Homo sapiens: one gene and its partners. The protein of the gene in region 1 purifies or fractionates together with the protein of each later gene. This does not show direct contact. Each region holds a gene or a part of one and is shown in the gene's direction. Other genes may lie near its edges.

Region 1 (3,500 bases):
CATATTTTGTTACAACTGATGAGCCAATGTTCATGTGTTATTATAAACTAAAGTACACAATTTACATGAGGGTTCACTCTTTGCATATCCTGTTTTGAATGCTAGTGCAACTTAACATGTTGTCTTTTGACTAGAAACGTCTATTGTATGTGTCTATTTATCTAGGGTAAATACAAACATTTGAAAAAAAAAGAATTTATGTGAATTCAGGGTCTTGTCTTTTCCTGAACTGGTTTTTATTCTGAGACTGAGTCTTGCTCTTGCCTAGGCTGGAGTGCACTGGCATGATCTTGGCTCACTGCAACCTCTGCCTCCTAGACTCAAGTGATTCTCCTGCCTCATCTTCCTGAGTAGCCGGGACTACAGGCATGAGCCACCATGCCCGGCTAATGTTTTTTTTTTGTATTTTTTAGTAGAGAACAGGGTTTCACCATGTTGGCCAGGTTGGTCTTGAACTCCTGACCTCAAGTGATCTGCCCACCTCTGCCTCCCAAAGTACAGGCATGAGCCACCACACCTGGAATGAACTGGTTTTTAAATCTATCTTTGCCCTAGGGAGTGCCAGCTGACATTATGATCTTTCTTAAATATTGGGCTGTACTTTTTTTGTTGCTATTTTCACATTCAGGATCTCATTTGGCAGTCAACTCTTACCCACCATGCCAGCCTCTGCACCTAACATCCTTTCTCATACTTCTGGTGCTTTTTAGACCTCCCAACAAATAGAATGGGGGTGCTACGTGGGAACAGGTTGCTTTCCTGGGTAATAGTAGAGTCAGCTGGGGATCCTACTTGTTTGATTTTGAGTTAAGCAATTGAGTTCAAGGTTTAGGGAAGAGGCAGAGTTTTTCCTAATTGTGCTCTGGGGCTCCTCCCTGGGGCAGGGACTTAGAGAGGCTCGGTAAGAACAGACCAAAGCTTGACCCCCTTCTCGTCACAGAAGCTTTCCCATCTCGATCCTCCCTCACGTGAGGCTTCTCTGCTTGGCCCTCATCCATTTGGCTGACCTTGACTGTGTTAGGACAAACCACTGTTTCATGTAGTTCATTTGAGTTAATTCTAGAATTTTTCTTTTTCTTTTTTTTTTTGAGACAGAGTTTTGCTCTTGTTGCCCAGGCTGGAGTGCAATGGTGCCATCTCGGCTCACTGCAAGCCCTGCCTCCCCGGTTCAAGCGATTCTCCTACCTCAGCCTACCAAGTAGCTGGGATTACAGGTGCCCGCCACCAATTTTTTAAATATTTTTAGCAGAGATGGGGTTTCACCACGTTGGCCAGGCTGGTTTTGAATTCCTGACCGCAAGCCATCCACCCGCCTTGGCCTCCCAAAGTGCTAGGATTACAGGCATGAGCCACTGTGACTGGCCAATTCTAGAATTTTTCAAAGGGAACATTTTTCTTTAAGGAAAATGGAAACAAAGTGAAACATATGGAAAGGTAGTTTATAGAAATTGATTTCTTTCTAAGGAATAGACTTGCTGCTTTCTTCCATGAGCCAGTTTCAGCACAGAATGTAGCCCATTTCTGCCGTCTGCATCCCCATGTGTCCTCATTTTCCCTCCCATCTCTGGTGAGAAAGAGTAGGAGTCTCTCTGTTCTTGAAGACAGGGAACTGTTTTTTTTTTTCTTTCTTTTTTCTTTTTTTTGAGACAGTCTTACTCTGTCACCCAGGCTGGAGTGCAGTGGTGCGATCTCGGCACACTGCAACCTCTGCCTCCTGGGTTCAAGTGATTCTCCTGCCTCAATCTCCTGAGTAGCTGGGATTACAGGTACCAAGCGTGGCTAATTTTTGTATTTTTAGTAGAGACAGGGTCTCACCATGTTGGCCAAGCTGGTCTTGAACTCCTGATCTCAAATGATCCACCTGCCTCGGCCTCCCAAAGTGCTGGGAATACAGGCGTGGAACCACAGCCCCCGGCCATAATTTTCCAAAACCACTTTCTCTTGCTTTTCAGCCTTTGCATATGCTCTGTACCCCTCTAACCCCATGCTTTTCCTCCACTTTGCCTACCTCTTCACAACACCTGGCATGCTTTAGGTCTTAGCCCTAAACTTCTAAACTTGTAAAAAGCCTACTTCAGGTTGCTCCAGTTGTGAAATCTAGCTCCCCTTTCATGGCATTTGCCACATTAGATTGTAATTGCCTGTTTCTTGCCTTTATCACCCCCATGGACTGTCAGCTCTATAGAGGGCAAGAATTGTAACTGCCTCATTTGCAGTAGAATATCCAGGGATTAGCACAGTATCTGGCACATAGAACATATGCAATAATTATTTGTTGAAAGACTGACTGAATAAAATGTGTCCAGAATGGGAGGTAAAAGGCCATGTATACTGGCCATTCTGAGTTGAAATTAACCAACTTAACTAAGCTTATAAATGTGCTGACTAAATTCAATTGAAACATCATTAAACCCACACCATGTGCTAGGAAATGTATAGGTTATGTGCTGATTGATATAATGCTACAGGTTTTTGTTTCCTGTTTCCAAAAGTGTGCATATGTTGTGAAAATGACAGACATTGCAAACATATAAATTGTGGATGAAAATCTGTTATAATTTCATTCCCCACAAAAAACCATTGTGAACAGCTTGGTATATGTTGCTCCAAATTTAAGCAAAAGTTTACTTACCATAAGTGTTTTCTTGTTTTGTATTATTCTATTATAGCTTTTCAATGTTTTCCCATAAAAATCGACCTTATTTTATCACTGTTCCGTAATTAACCAATCATGTGCTGATGGACAGTTGGTTTCTTTTTTTCTTTACTAGAAACAGCACTGCAATGAATATCATTGTACCTATACTTTTGCATACTTATGTATATAAGCTCAGTTTCTGTAAGCAGAGCTGCTTAGTTAAAGGGTAGGAATGTCATGCCTGTAATCCCAGCACTTTGGGAGGCCGAGGCAGGCGGATTACCTGGGATCAGGAGTTCGAGACCAGCCTGACCAACATGGTGAAACCCCATCTCTGCTAAAAATACAGAAAATTAGCCGGGCGTGGTGGCAGGCGCCTGTAATGCCAGCTACTTGGGAGGCTGAGGCAGGAGAATCACTTGAACCCAGGAGGCAGAGGTTGCACTGAGCCGAGATCGCGCCACTGCACTCAAGCCTGGGCGTGACAGAGCGAGACCCCGTCTCAAAAAATAAATAGATAAAACAAAGGGTAGGAATGTTTTAAATGTTAATAGATTGCAAAGTGACCATCCAGAGAAGCTGTACTAAGAGACAGTGATACACTTGGGGAGAAGAGAGAGCAAGGAAGAACCTTGAGCTCACAGCCAAGCTCTGTGAGGCAAGTGTGAGCAGTGCTGTGATTAGGAGCAGTGGGAGTTAGGGGGAGGGTGTGATTGGCTTCTGCCTGGGGGAAGGTTTCATGGAGGGGAATGTTCCTTTTACCTGTACTTTATTATTTTTTTTGAGACAGAATTTCACTCTTGTCATCCAGGCCGGAGTGCAATGGCGGGATCTCAGCTCCCTGCAACCTCCCCCTCCGGGG
Region 2 (3,500 bases), on another chromosome or scaffold:
ATAGGAGACAAGATGAGTAAGACATGGTCCTGACACTCATGGAGTTTACAGTTAGCAGTGGGAAAAGTATTTAGATGGTACTTGAAATAGTCTTGAAATAAATTTAAGCTTAGATAATTTCACTTAAAAATAACATGATGAAAAGAGTAAGAATATGTGTGCACTCAGTAATGTAGTGTGTGATGGTGTTTATTGTATACCCACATGAAAGCGTTTGTAGCTTCTATTCTTCTTAATCTCAGATCCCTTTTAAAGTCCCCCAGTATACTCATAAATCATGTATATCGTGTGAAGATATAGGAATTCTTGACTGTGTAATGTTTTATTTAAATGTTAATTTATATGGATCAATGTAAGTGAAATTCTCAGAAAGTTGAGGACATTAAATCTTTAATTGAAAGGTAAGAGATATTTGCAAGATGGTTTGGCCACCAATGTATGCCTTGTGTTCTAAATTTCACTTTAGGAAGTCACTTACTGTAGTAATTTGGTGGCTTTGTCACCCTCCCCACCTCTTACACATTCATAGACTTCTCTACCTTGAATAGGTGTGGGGAGTTTATCCACCCCAAATGCCCAAGGCTTTTTTTTTTTTTTATTATAGTACTTCACACACCACGCAGTTATGGCCCACTTTTATATGAGTTCAGATAGATTGTGAATTATTTGAGGGCTGAGACACTGTCATTCATCACTTTATCCTTGACACCTGACATTATGGCTTGGTATGGGTGCTCCTCAAATGTTGATTGAATCAATGAACGAACTCACATTTCAGTACCAGATGATAACCTTGTCTGGCATCATACAGGTTTATTGTCAGGATGGAATGTGATCAGGAATTTCACTTCCTTGCCATTGAATACATTTCTTGGATTTGCCTGTAAGACGATAATAGTCTGTTAGTTCCAGCTTATCTAGAAGTGGGTCTGTATGAGCCCAGGCCTGGTGTGTAGATGGGGAGATCACACATGCATGAGCGCACACACATCTACACCTGTGCATTAGAGGTTTCCCAAGATTTAGTTAATTAGATGCTGCAGGCTCTCAGGGGCATTGCACAGGCTGAGTAACACTAAAAGGCTAGGGGATTGGGAGGTAAGCTGCTGTTTATCACACTTCTGATACACTTTTTATGAGCACCAAAGATCTGATGTTGTAAAATCTTGAGCTCCATAGAATTGATCCAGGAGATCTGGAGTTACTACGAGAAAGCAGAGATCTTCGTTGGTCTGTTATTGGAGCTGTGCTTTAGGGACACAGACAGACCTGCCTTTTCTCAGGGTGACTTCTGCTCCTGTGGAAGGAGAAGTGAATTGTCTGATCTTTGTTAAGTTAGTGAGTATAAGAGTACTTGTGCAGAACCAAACTTTACCTACAAAAAGTATTTTATGTTAACAAGTAGGGACTCCAGATATCCTGATCATAACATCTGATCTTATAATCAAATCTTCTACCTTCTGGTCTGAAAACATATGGTATGATATGATATGATATGATATGAGCATTTGTTGAAGATGCAATGGGAGGGACTGGTAAAGCCAATTCCACTAGTCAGAAATTGTAGCAGGGTAGGAAAGGGTGTAGCTTCTACACAAATACCATGGTTGTAGGTGTTCAGCTGGGAGAAGTGGAAGCCAAGGGCAAGAATGGGTCTCGAATGCAGCACTGGCAAGGGTGGGCTGTGCTGCACAGCTCAGTAGGGACAGGGTCTCAGGCCATAAATCCCTGCTGTGTCCACTGGCCTAGAGTCAGATGCTTAGCTGTGACTGATGTGCCAGAACTTGACCTGCAAAGCCCATGGCCCCTTGTTGAGCACAGTCTAGTATGAGAAAGCTGCCTGTTACGTAGCAGTTCTTTGTGTGTACCAAATATTATCCAGGTGGTAAGGGCTAAATCTGGGCCTGTCTTCTCCCTAGAGGTGTAAGGGATTCCATATACTTCCTCCAGAAGCAGATGTTGTTGCTCTTTCAGTTATGTAATGTGAGGTCAGGACTTAGGTGGGTATGAGGCAGTGATTTAAGGCAGAAAGCATGGAGTGGACTCTGGGCAAATATGTGACAGGTGTTCTTTTTTTGTTGTTCAATAGAGATTACTCCTTATGTTCTTTTCTTGGGCTAGCTTCATGGGCTACCACAATGATAGGTAGAAGGCCTGGCTACTTTGAAAGGGCCAGGGATGGGCCACAGAGAAGTCAGGTTGTTAGTATTAATGGACATTTAGAAGGTAGCCCAAAATTTTAAGTCATCTATGTTCCTCCTACTGTGTTTTGAAATGTGGGGAGCTGGTTGTAGTAACTATTTAGATTTCTCAATTTCTCTTTTAGGTAGGTTGCTGCAATAACCTAGGGTTTTTTTTTTTTTTTTTTCCTAACAAGCTTTTTCCTGTCTTGTCTACTTTCCTATTTGTTTTATTTTCCCTGTGTCTTTTATACATGAGTTCATATCAGAAGAGATTAAGTGATTTTGTATTATATTTTAGATAAGTTTTATCCTATGACTTAACATTTAATATGTTGTTCTTACTAGAGAATGAGTTGCTGAGTGATTTTTACTTGTATTCCTGACAAAGTTTGCCTCTTAGCTTACCTATTTAAAGGTATTAGGCTTTAAAAATTTGGGTCAAGTGGGGAAACGTGGCTGTTTAGTAAACATTGTTAATAGGGGTGACATTTTGTTTTCAGTCCCTGGATTTAATTTTAACCATTTATCTTTGAGCCCCAGTTTTTTTCTAGGAAATAAAAATGATAAACATTGCTTTTTTTTCCCTCAGTTCAGGAAAAAACTACAAGATCGTGGTTCTTGATAAAGAGAGGATCCTGGAGAATGGAACAATGTCTTGTCTGTTTTTCTTATTTCTGTGGTCACTGTGTCTTATTTAAAAGGTGGCATTTAGGTTTGCCGTGATCACAGGATAGCGCGTGCATTAAAGAATTTTTTTTTTGTGATCAAGTTGAATTATTGTTCAAAAGTTTAGAAAAATTATAATGTGTCTTTTTTTTTTTTTTTTTTTTTTTTTAACCTCTTAGTGCCGCAGAATGGAATTCGGCATTGTTCCTACACAGCTTCTCGGCAACATCTCTATGTTGATAAAAATACAAAGATTATTTGCCAGGGTTTCACTGGCAAACAGGTATGTATATCTAGATTTTTATTTTCAAATGTAGACTAGAGATATAACAAATTAACTATTTTTTTATTTTTAATATCTCAAAAATAACACATGATTGTTGCAGAAAAATATACTGTACAGCAATGGGGTTGTATCTCAGGAGGAGGTTAGTTGCTATTGTCAGCCTATAACATAAAAATTGTGTTTAAACTTACCTTGCAAAGGAGTATATTGTATGCTTACTAGGAGTATATTGTTTTGGAGGCCCATACACTTTCTTTCAGCAAATACAACACTAATGATTTTCCTCCAGTGTTGAAAGAGATCACCGTTTCTTTGACTAAGCACTAGGTCAACTAGATTCTTGTGTTTAGGTTTTGTACAAACAG
Region 3 (3,969 bases), on another chromosome or scaffold:
TTTTTTGTAGAGAGGGGGTCTCAATATGTTGCCCAGGCATTATGGATTTTATGCATTCGGGACCATCCCATGCTTAAAGCATGACAGAACCCGGCGGCATATTTTTCTCTGCCGCAGCTTTCAGTGCAGGGGCACCTCACAGGCAGGGCGGGGTCAAGGCTCTGTCCAGACAATGGCTGCAGAGTAAAAAGCACTTCCATTTATGGGGGTCAAGGGCGAGGGGAGGGAGAAAGGAGCAGGGAAAGAGGAGAAGTGGCCACATGTACTTTGATTTGTTTTTTGCTTTTTGTTACATGTACTTTTGAAGCAGTATTTAGAAGTAGCCTCTCCTACAGCCCCTGCTGTAGCTTGTCTCCTAGCTGTGAGGTGAGTTATTCAGTACCCTCTAACGTAAAAATGACCTTCAGACAGACAGACAGACACACACACACACACACACACACACACAGAGGAAAACAGCTCTGTCATCCACTTTTTCTTCCTTTCCCGTCCCCAGACCCTCGATTCTCTCTTTAAAATGACTGCTGTGAAGATAACGTAACACAGAGTAATACTAATGACAAATTATCAAAAAAGAAAAAAAAAATAAAAATCTTTATTAGTGTTTTTTAAAATGACGTAAAAGACTATGGGAAAAAATGCCAACAATAGTTATGTATAACTTTTTTGTTCATATTTCCAAAACGTTTATAACATACATAACTTTAAAAGAAAAATAATTTAAAAAATACATATCTGAAAATGAAACCCCGCTGTTTGCCAACGACCAGCTGGCTTAATCTGACTTCGCAGATGTAGCAGTGTTGGAAAACGTCGGTTCTTTTGCTGAGGGAAGGAAGAGATGGGAGGGGTAGAAAGGGCGGTGGTTATTCCCTTTAGTATTTCGATCCGGTCACACAACCTAAATCCAACATCTGCATCAAATGTCTCCTTTCCGAAATACTCTCCCTAAAATGACAGAGAACCTGGCCAGGCGGACAGAACGGCCCCTGCGCATTTGCAGGGGTCCTGGTGGGCTTGCCGGGCAGAGGGCGTGCGGGTCTCAGCAAGCTGCCGGGTCCGCCCAGGCCCCGCCCCATGCCCATTCAGGCCCCGCCCCCGACCCGCAGGCCCCGCCCCCGACCCGCCCCGTCCGCCTCCGTCACGTGATGGGGCGCCGGGTCCAGCCTGTTGCTGATGCTGCCGTGCGGTACTTGTCATGGAGCTGGCACTGCGGCGCTCTCCCGTCCCGCGGTGGTTGCTGCTGCTGCCGCTGCTGCTGGGCCTGAACGCAGGTAGGTTCAAGCAAGAGGCGCACCAGCTGCCATGCCTCTTTTTTCTCCAGGCGTGAGAGTTTGTTACTGGGTTTGTGCTTTTGAAAACATGTCTCTTTTCCCCGGTTCTTACCTTGTGTAATTATATTGCTTTTGAATCTCACTCTTTTTTTTTTTTTTCCTTAAAAAATTCAAAGTGCTTTTTTTGTCCTTTTCTGGCTCTGGGTGGTCTGAGTGCTTCCGTTCTCTCCTACGCCTAGATAGAAGCTGTGTGCAGAAATGTATGATTTGGGGAAACTGCTGGTCAATGAGGTTTCCCCGATTCAAAGGCCATGATTGGCTGCTAAATGAGGATATAAGGTCGTTTTATTTTAAGCTGAAATCTGCGGTCAAAAGTACCCTTACATCCTACCACGAATGGGACATTTCATTGAGATAAGGCCCTTTCTTTTCTTGATCAAAACAAACAAGATAACATCTTCCCCCACAGCGATCTTTTTTGGCAAAAAACAGATTTGTGTTTAATAGGATGACTTGCAAATTGATTTTCAGCAAAACCTCTCCTAGTCTGAAGCAAGCACTGAGAATTGGAACTGGCCACAAGCTTGCCTTGTGACCTTAGGCAAGTTGTTGAACAGTTTTGTTTTCCTTTTCTAAAATGGGGATCATCTGGCCCTTAGGCGAGTGTCTGGGAGATTTTGTAAAATAAGTAGCTCTGCCAATTTTACCAGTAGTCACTGCCAGGCAAGGGAGAAGTGCCTGGGGTTAGGTCAAAAGGTACCTGCGCCTTATCTGTCATTCTCAAGGGAGCGCAGCCTTATCTGTTATTGTCAAGGACAATATAATCGTGTGTTACTTGTATATAGAACCTTATAGCTAAGTCTGTAATGTTTTAGTCATCTGTTTTGCTCCTCAGGACACTTTCTGGTTTTCTTAATCTTCATTGTTGTTTTGTTTTGAGTCAGGGTCTCACTATGTTGCCCAGGCTGGTCTGGAACTGCCTGACTCAAGTGATCTTCCTACTTCAGCATCCCAAGTAGCCCGGACTGCAGACACAGGCCACCACCCTGGCTCTTTCTTATTTACAAGACGTTGTCTCATTGTCTTCCTCTCTACTCCTGTCTCTTTAGCTGTTGGGACCAGTGTTCTTTTACTGACCAATGGGGCTTGAAATTTGAGAAGGGAGGAAATAGAAGGCAGAAAACTCCAGTCACCGAGGGGATCCCCCCCATCATCTTTTAACAACAGCCCCTCTACTTTTTTTTTTCCCAGAGTGGTTTTGGAGGAAAAAAAAAAAGATGCTATAACTTGGAAATTGTTACGTTAGCAAAAAGTGACAAAGAAAATGTATTTAGCCTACTCTTTTCTAAAACATATTTTGTGGATGCTAGAAAAGTTAAGTAAGGAAAATTGGAGTTAGGGGATTATAGGATACGTATATTAAACACACATACACAGATATATATCGTTCAGTTTAAAAAAATCATCTACATGAGTTAGGAAAATTGCCCTTTTTCATATTTGTTGTAGCTCTTTCCTTGCTGTTTGCCTTTTTATTTTTGATTTACAGAAATTTTGTTGTATAGAAATATAACAAGTTTCTGTTCTCACCTCCATCATTGTTTCTTTTGTACAGTCTCTGGGGTTTGCTTAGATTCTTTCCTCATCCAGACATTAGAAATATATTTAACTATATTTTTGTATTTTTTTAATGTTTAAAGTTTAAAATTTAATTGCTTGATCCTCATGGAACTTATTTCGTTTATAGTGTTGAGAGGACCTAAATTTCTCTTTTTTTCTCCAAAAAAGGTAATTGTTGCTCCATTACTGTATATTGAATATTCTCAGCCCCACTAATTTGTGATGCCTCTTCACTCATGTTTTTTGTTTGTTTGGTTGGTTGGTTTTTTGTTTTTTTGAGATAGGATCTCCCTCTGTCACCTAGGCTGGAGTGCACTGGTGTGATCACAGCTCACTGCAGCCTCAACCTACTGGGCTCAAGCGATTCTCCTACCTCTGTCTCCTGAGTAGCTGGGACCACAGGCATATGCCACAATGCCCAGCTAATTTTTGCATTTTTTGTAGAGATGGGGTGTTGCTATGTTGCTTAGACTGGTTTTGAACTCCTATGCACAAGCTATCAGCCTGTCTTGGCCTTCCAAAGTGTTGGGATTACAGGAGTGAGCCACCAAGCCTGGTGTCTTACTCATGTATTAAATACGATATAAAAACCAGTATATTGCATTCTGAGATTTTTACTTTTTTACTCAAAATATAAATCTCTCTTGTTTTTACAGAATTATAAAAGTATTTCCTGTAATCCCAGCACTTTGGTAGGCCTAGGCGGGCAGATCACCTGAGGTCAGGAGTGCGAGACCAGCCTGACCAACATGGAGAAACCCCATCTCTACTAAAAATACAAAATTAGCCAGGCGTGGTGGTGCATGCCTGTAATCCTAGCTACTTGGAAGGCTGAGGCAGGAGAATCGCTTGAACCCGGAAGGCAGAGGTTGCGGTGAGCCGAGATTGCGCCATTGCATTCCAGCCTGGGCAACAAGAGCGAGACTTCGTATCAAAAAAAAAAAAAAAAAAAAAAAAGTGTTTCATATTTATTGTTAAAAATCCAAACATTACAGAAAAGTGTAGAGGAAAAAGTGAAAGCCCCTGGCCTCCTATGCCGCTGTTAAGTTTGGTTTCTTTTTTCATAGCCGAGGTT
Region 4 (3,500 bases), on another chromosome or scaffold:
TTCAAAAACAAACACCCCAAAAAACCAGGAAAAGAAGTCGACATATGGAACATTTTGAAGGAAGAGATATCAGAATTCTAGAGTTAGGAGGCCCGAGCCGGCAGATCACCTGAGGTTGGGAGTTCGAGACCGGCCTGGCCAATATAGTGAAACCCCTCTCTACTAAAAATACAAAAATTAGCCAGGCATGGTGGCACATGCCTGTAATCCCAACTACTTGGGAGGCTGAGGCAGGAGAATCACTTCAACCTGGGAGGTGGAGGTTGCAGTGAGCCAAGATTGTGCCACTGTACTCCAGCCTGGGCAACAAAGCGAGATTCTGTCTCAAAACAAACAAAAAACAAACAAGAGAATTCTAGAGTTAGTGTAAGAATTGGTAGACAACATTTTGTATGTAATACTTTCCCATAAAAGAGGAAACATATCTATGAAATGTTTAGTTTGTGTTTTAATAGATAAATCTCATAGGACTTAAAGACAAGAAAGGCATATGAGTTGCAGTATATAGAAGAGGAAACTTTGATAGCAGTCTTGAGATTGACTGGAGGAGGAATATGGTAGGAGATGTGAACTCTGGGTAATAGAAGATTGCAACAGAAGTGAAACCATTTGATAGTGTTCACTATTCAGTAGATATTTACTGAGCATTTGTTTTTTAAGCCAGGCAGTGGTATGCTGTAGCAATGTCTTTGAGAATTTACATTTCTATCGATGTTAATAAATAAGAATGTCAGTATATTATTTACCTGTCTAGCCTCACCTTTTCCCTTTGCCCTTTAGTCTTTTAAAGCTGTTTGATTCTTGATTTTACTCTTCTTTCTTGACTTTGAGGCTTTGTAGGGTACTGCTTCCCCTAGTCAGAATTTTTCTTTCTGTCATTTTCTAGGAAATTCCTATTTACCTTTTCCAACTTGGCTTAGGGTTACCTCTTCTAGGAAGCCTTCTTTTAATTAATTACACATCTCCTGCTCCCATTCTGACAGCACCCCAATCCTTACAGGACAAAGAATATGTTTTAGTATCAGTCTAAACTCCAGGACAGCCATCTTGTGTTGCTGTCTTTATTATCTGCAACACCTAAAACATTACTTGGTATGTAGTAGGTGCTCAATAAATGTTTTATGGGGGAAATGAATGTGGCAGAAATATTTAAGGACATGGGATACGTTGTAGCACTATACACACACGTATAATACATTTTGTATTAAGACATATTACCAAAGGAAATGTATGTCTAGCAAATGTTAATTTAAGTGCTAGAGAAAATAATCAAAAGAAAATGTAGCTTGTTGCAATATATTATTATTTTTTTTAAGGAGACAGGGTGTCACTCTTCTCTCCAGGCTAGAGTACAGTGGTGTGATGATGGCTCACTGTAGCCTCAATATCCTGGGCTCAAATGATCCTCCCGGCTCAGCCTCCTGAGCAGCTGGAACTACAGGCATGTGGCACTGCAGCCAGCTAATTAAACATTTTTTGTTGAGACAGAGTTTCACCAGGCTGGTCTCAAACTCCTGGCCTCAAGGAATCCTCCCACCTGGTTTCTCAAAGTGCTGCGATTACAGGTTTGAGCCACCATGCCCAGCCTATAATTTCTAATCTAACATTTTGTAAGAAGCATGGAAAACAAGAATAGGAATTTTTGCCTTGAAGCTTTGACATTGGACTATGGATCTGTGACTATAATATAATGTCTGTGGCAGGGGCAACTTCAAAACTTTTAACAAGTCATTTTAGAGTACTCCCTTCCCCCAGTATTTAATTTTCATAATACTTTTGATCTAGTTGACAATGTTGACTATTAAATCTTTTTTTTTTTATTTGTAATCTTTCCTTCCTAGTGATCTCGGAAGCTGAAAAGGCAAAACAGAAGATAGCTCCAGTTTTCTTCAGAGAAGAATATATGCTGAATAATGCTGTTGGTATGTGTATTCTGCTCAGAGCTTTGGAAATGGAATAAAGAAATGAGGTGGACAGTATGTACTTTGTTAAAAATGCAATCAATAGGCATCCTTACTTAAACTTTTAATACCATGTGCCAGGCATAAGTAAAGTTGATTAAACTATTTTAAGTGCTTATTTCAGAACAGTTACCCTTTAATATTAGTAGGCTATACTTAACTGCTATTTGTTATAAAATCAATATGAGGCCAGGCATGGTGGCTCACGCCTGTAATCCCAGCAATTTGGGAGGCTGAGGTGGGTGGATCACCTGAGTTCAGGAGTTTGAGACCAGCCTGGCCAACGTGCTGAAACCCCGTCTCTACTAAAAATACAAAAATCAGCTGGGTGCGGTGGCAAGTGCCTGTAATCCCAGCTACTCGGGAGGCTGAGGCAGGAGAATCAGCTTGAACCTGGGAGGTGGAGGTTGCAGTGATTCGAGATTGCACCACTGCACTCCAGCCTGGGCAACAAAGCGAGACTCCGTCTCAAAAATAAATCAATATGAAAATATGGATTTCTCATCATGTGGTAGCTTTCTTGGGGGAAAAAACTTGGGTTCCAGTTTTCTCTATGAAATGAAGTATAGTATCATTTCCTAATTCTTAGGAATAAAAATTTCTTTATATTCAAGGTTCTAGGTTTCATTGGAGGTGAAGCAGTACTTTTATCTAGCATGCGAAGTTAAGATACAGGAAATAACATAATAAGTACTTGTGTACCCTCCAGCCCAGAATTAACAGACGTCAATATTTTGTTTTTGCTTGATGATTTAAAATTTCTCCAAAAGAAATATAATACTGCAAGTTTGGAAGTTACATTTCAGCCCATTTTTTTGCTTTCCTCAGTGCCATTACTTTCCCCAGAAGCAACCATTTATCCCTCCTCAAAAACAACCATTGTCATTAATTTTTAGTGTATTCTCCTAGACCATATTTGACATTTTTACTAAATATTTATGAACTAAAAGATTTTAAGTTAGAATTTGATTGAATACATGATATTAACGTATTTTGACATATAGTTGGAAAAATAAATTCAGTTTTTGTCATGTGCCTTTTAGACAAATAAACATTTATATATTGGCATAAAAACATGAATTAATATCTAGTAGATTAAACACATGGGGATATATATGTTTTTCTAAAAATATGAATTGATGAAAATAATTACTAAGTGATGAAAAAAGCTGTATACTCATTTAACATTAAAGTATTTAAAATAGTAAAACATAAGTTTATTTTTATTTTATTATTTATTATTTATTTATCTTTTAAGAGAGAGTCTTGCCCTGTCACCCAGGCTGGAGTGCAGTGGTGCGATCTTGGCTCACTGCAGCCTCTGTCTCCCAGGTTCAAGTGATTCTCCTGCCTCAGCCACCTGAGTAGCTGGGATTACAGGCATGCACCACCACACCCTGCTAATTTTTGTATTTTAAGTAGAGACAGGTTTCACCCTGTTGGCCAGGCTGCTCTCGAACTCCTGACCCTAGGTGATCCATCTGCCCCGGCCTCCCAAAGTACTGGGATTACAGACATGAGCCACGCACCTGGTGTGGT

What was found.
Region 2: the proteins of ALDH7A1 (region 1) and SUCLG1 fractionate together in Homo sapiens (co-fractionation; one large-scale study listed by BioGRID). This does not show direct contact.
Region 3: the proteins of ALDH7A1 (region 1) and SCPEP1 fractionate together in Homo sapiens (co-fractionation; one large-scale study listed by BioGRID). This does not show direct contact.
Region 4: the proteins of ALDH7A1 (region 1) and HIBCH fractionate together in Homo sapiens (co-fractionation; one large-scale study listed by BioGRID). This does not show direct contact.

Annotation. Positions count from the first base shown.
Region 1 is NC_000005.10:126,585,220-126,588,719, reverse strand, and holds part of ALDH7A1 (alpha-aminoadipic semialdehyde dehydrogenase isoform 1 precursor), read left to right. Parts: intron 1-3,500.
Region 2 is NC_000002.12:84,449,281-84,452,780, reverse strand, and holds part of SUCLG1 (succinate--CoA ligase [ADP/GDP-forming] subunit alpha, mitochondrial precursor), read left to right. Parts: intron 1-3,028; coding exon 3,029-3,132; intron 3,133-3,500. UniProt on the Homo sapiens protein: Succinyl-CoA synthetase functions in the citric acid cycle (TCA), coupling the hydrolysis of succinyl-CoA to the synthesis of either ATP or GTP and thus represents the only step of substrate-level phosphorylation in the TCA.
Region 3 is NC_000017.11:56,976,962-56,980,930, forward strand, and holds the start of SCPEP1 (retinoid-inducible serine carboxypeptidase precursor), read left to right. Parts: upstream 1-1,169; 5' UTR 1,170-1,198; coding exon 1,199-1,274; intron 1,275-3,969. UniProt on the Homo sapiens protein: May be involved in vascular wall and kidney homeostasis.
Region 4 is NC_000002.12:190,288,827-190,292,326, reverse strand, and holds part of HIBCH (3-hydroxyisobutyryl-CoA hydrolase, mitochondrial isoform 1 precursor), read left to right. Parts: intron 1-1,841; coding exon 1,842-1,922; intron 1,923-3,500. UniProt on the Homo sapiens protein: Hydrolyzes 3-hydroxyisobutyryl-CoA (HIBYL-CoA), a saline catabolite. Has high activity toward isobutyryl-CoA. Could be an isobutyryl-CoA dehydrogenase that functions in valine catabolism. Also hydrolyzes 3-hydroxypropanoyl-CoA.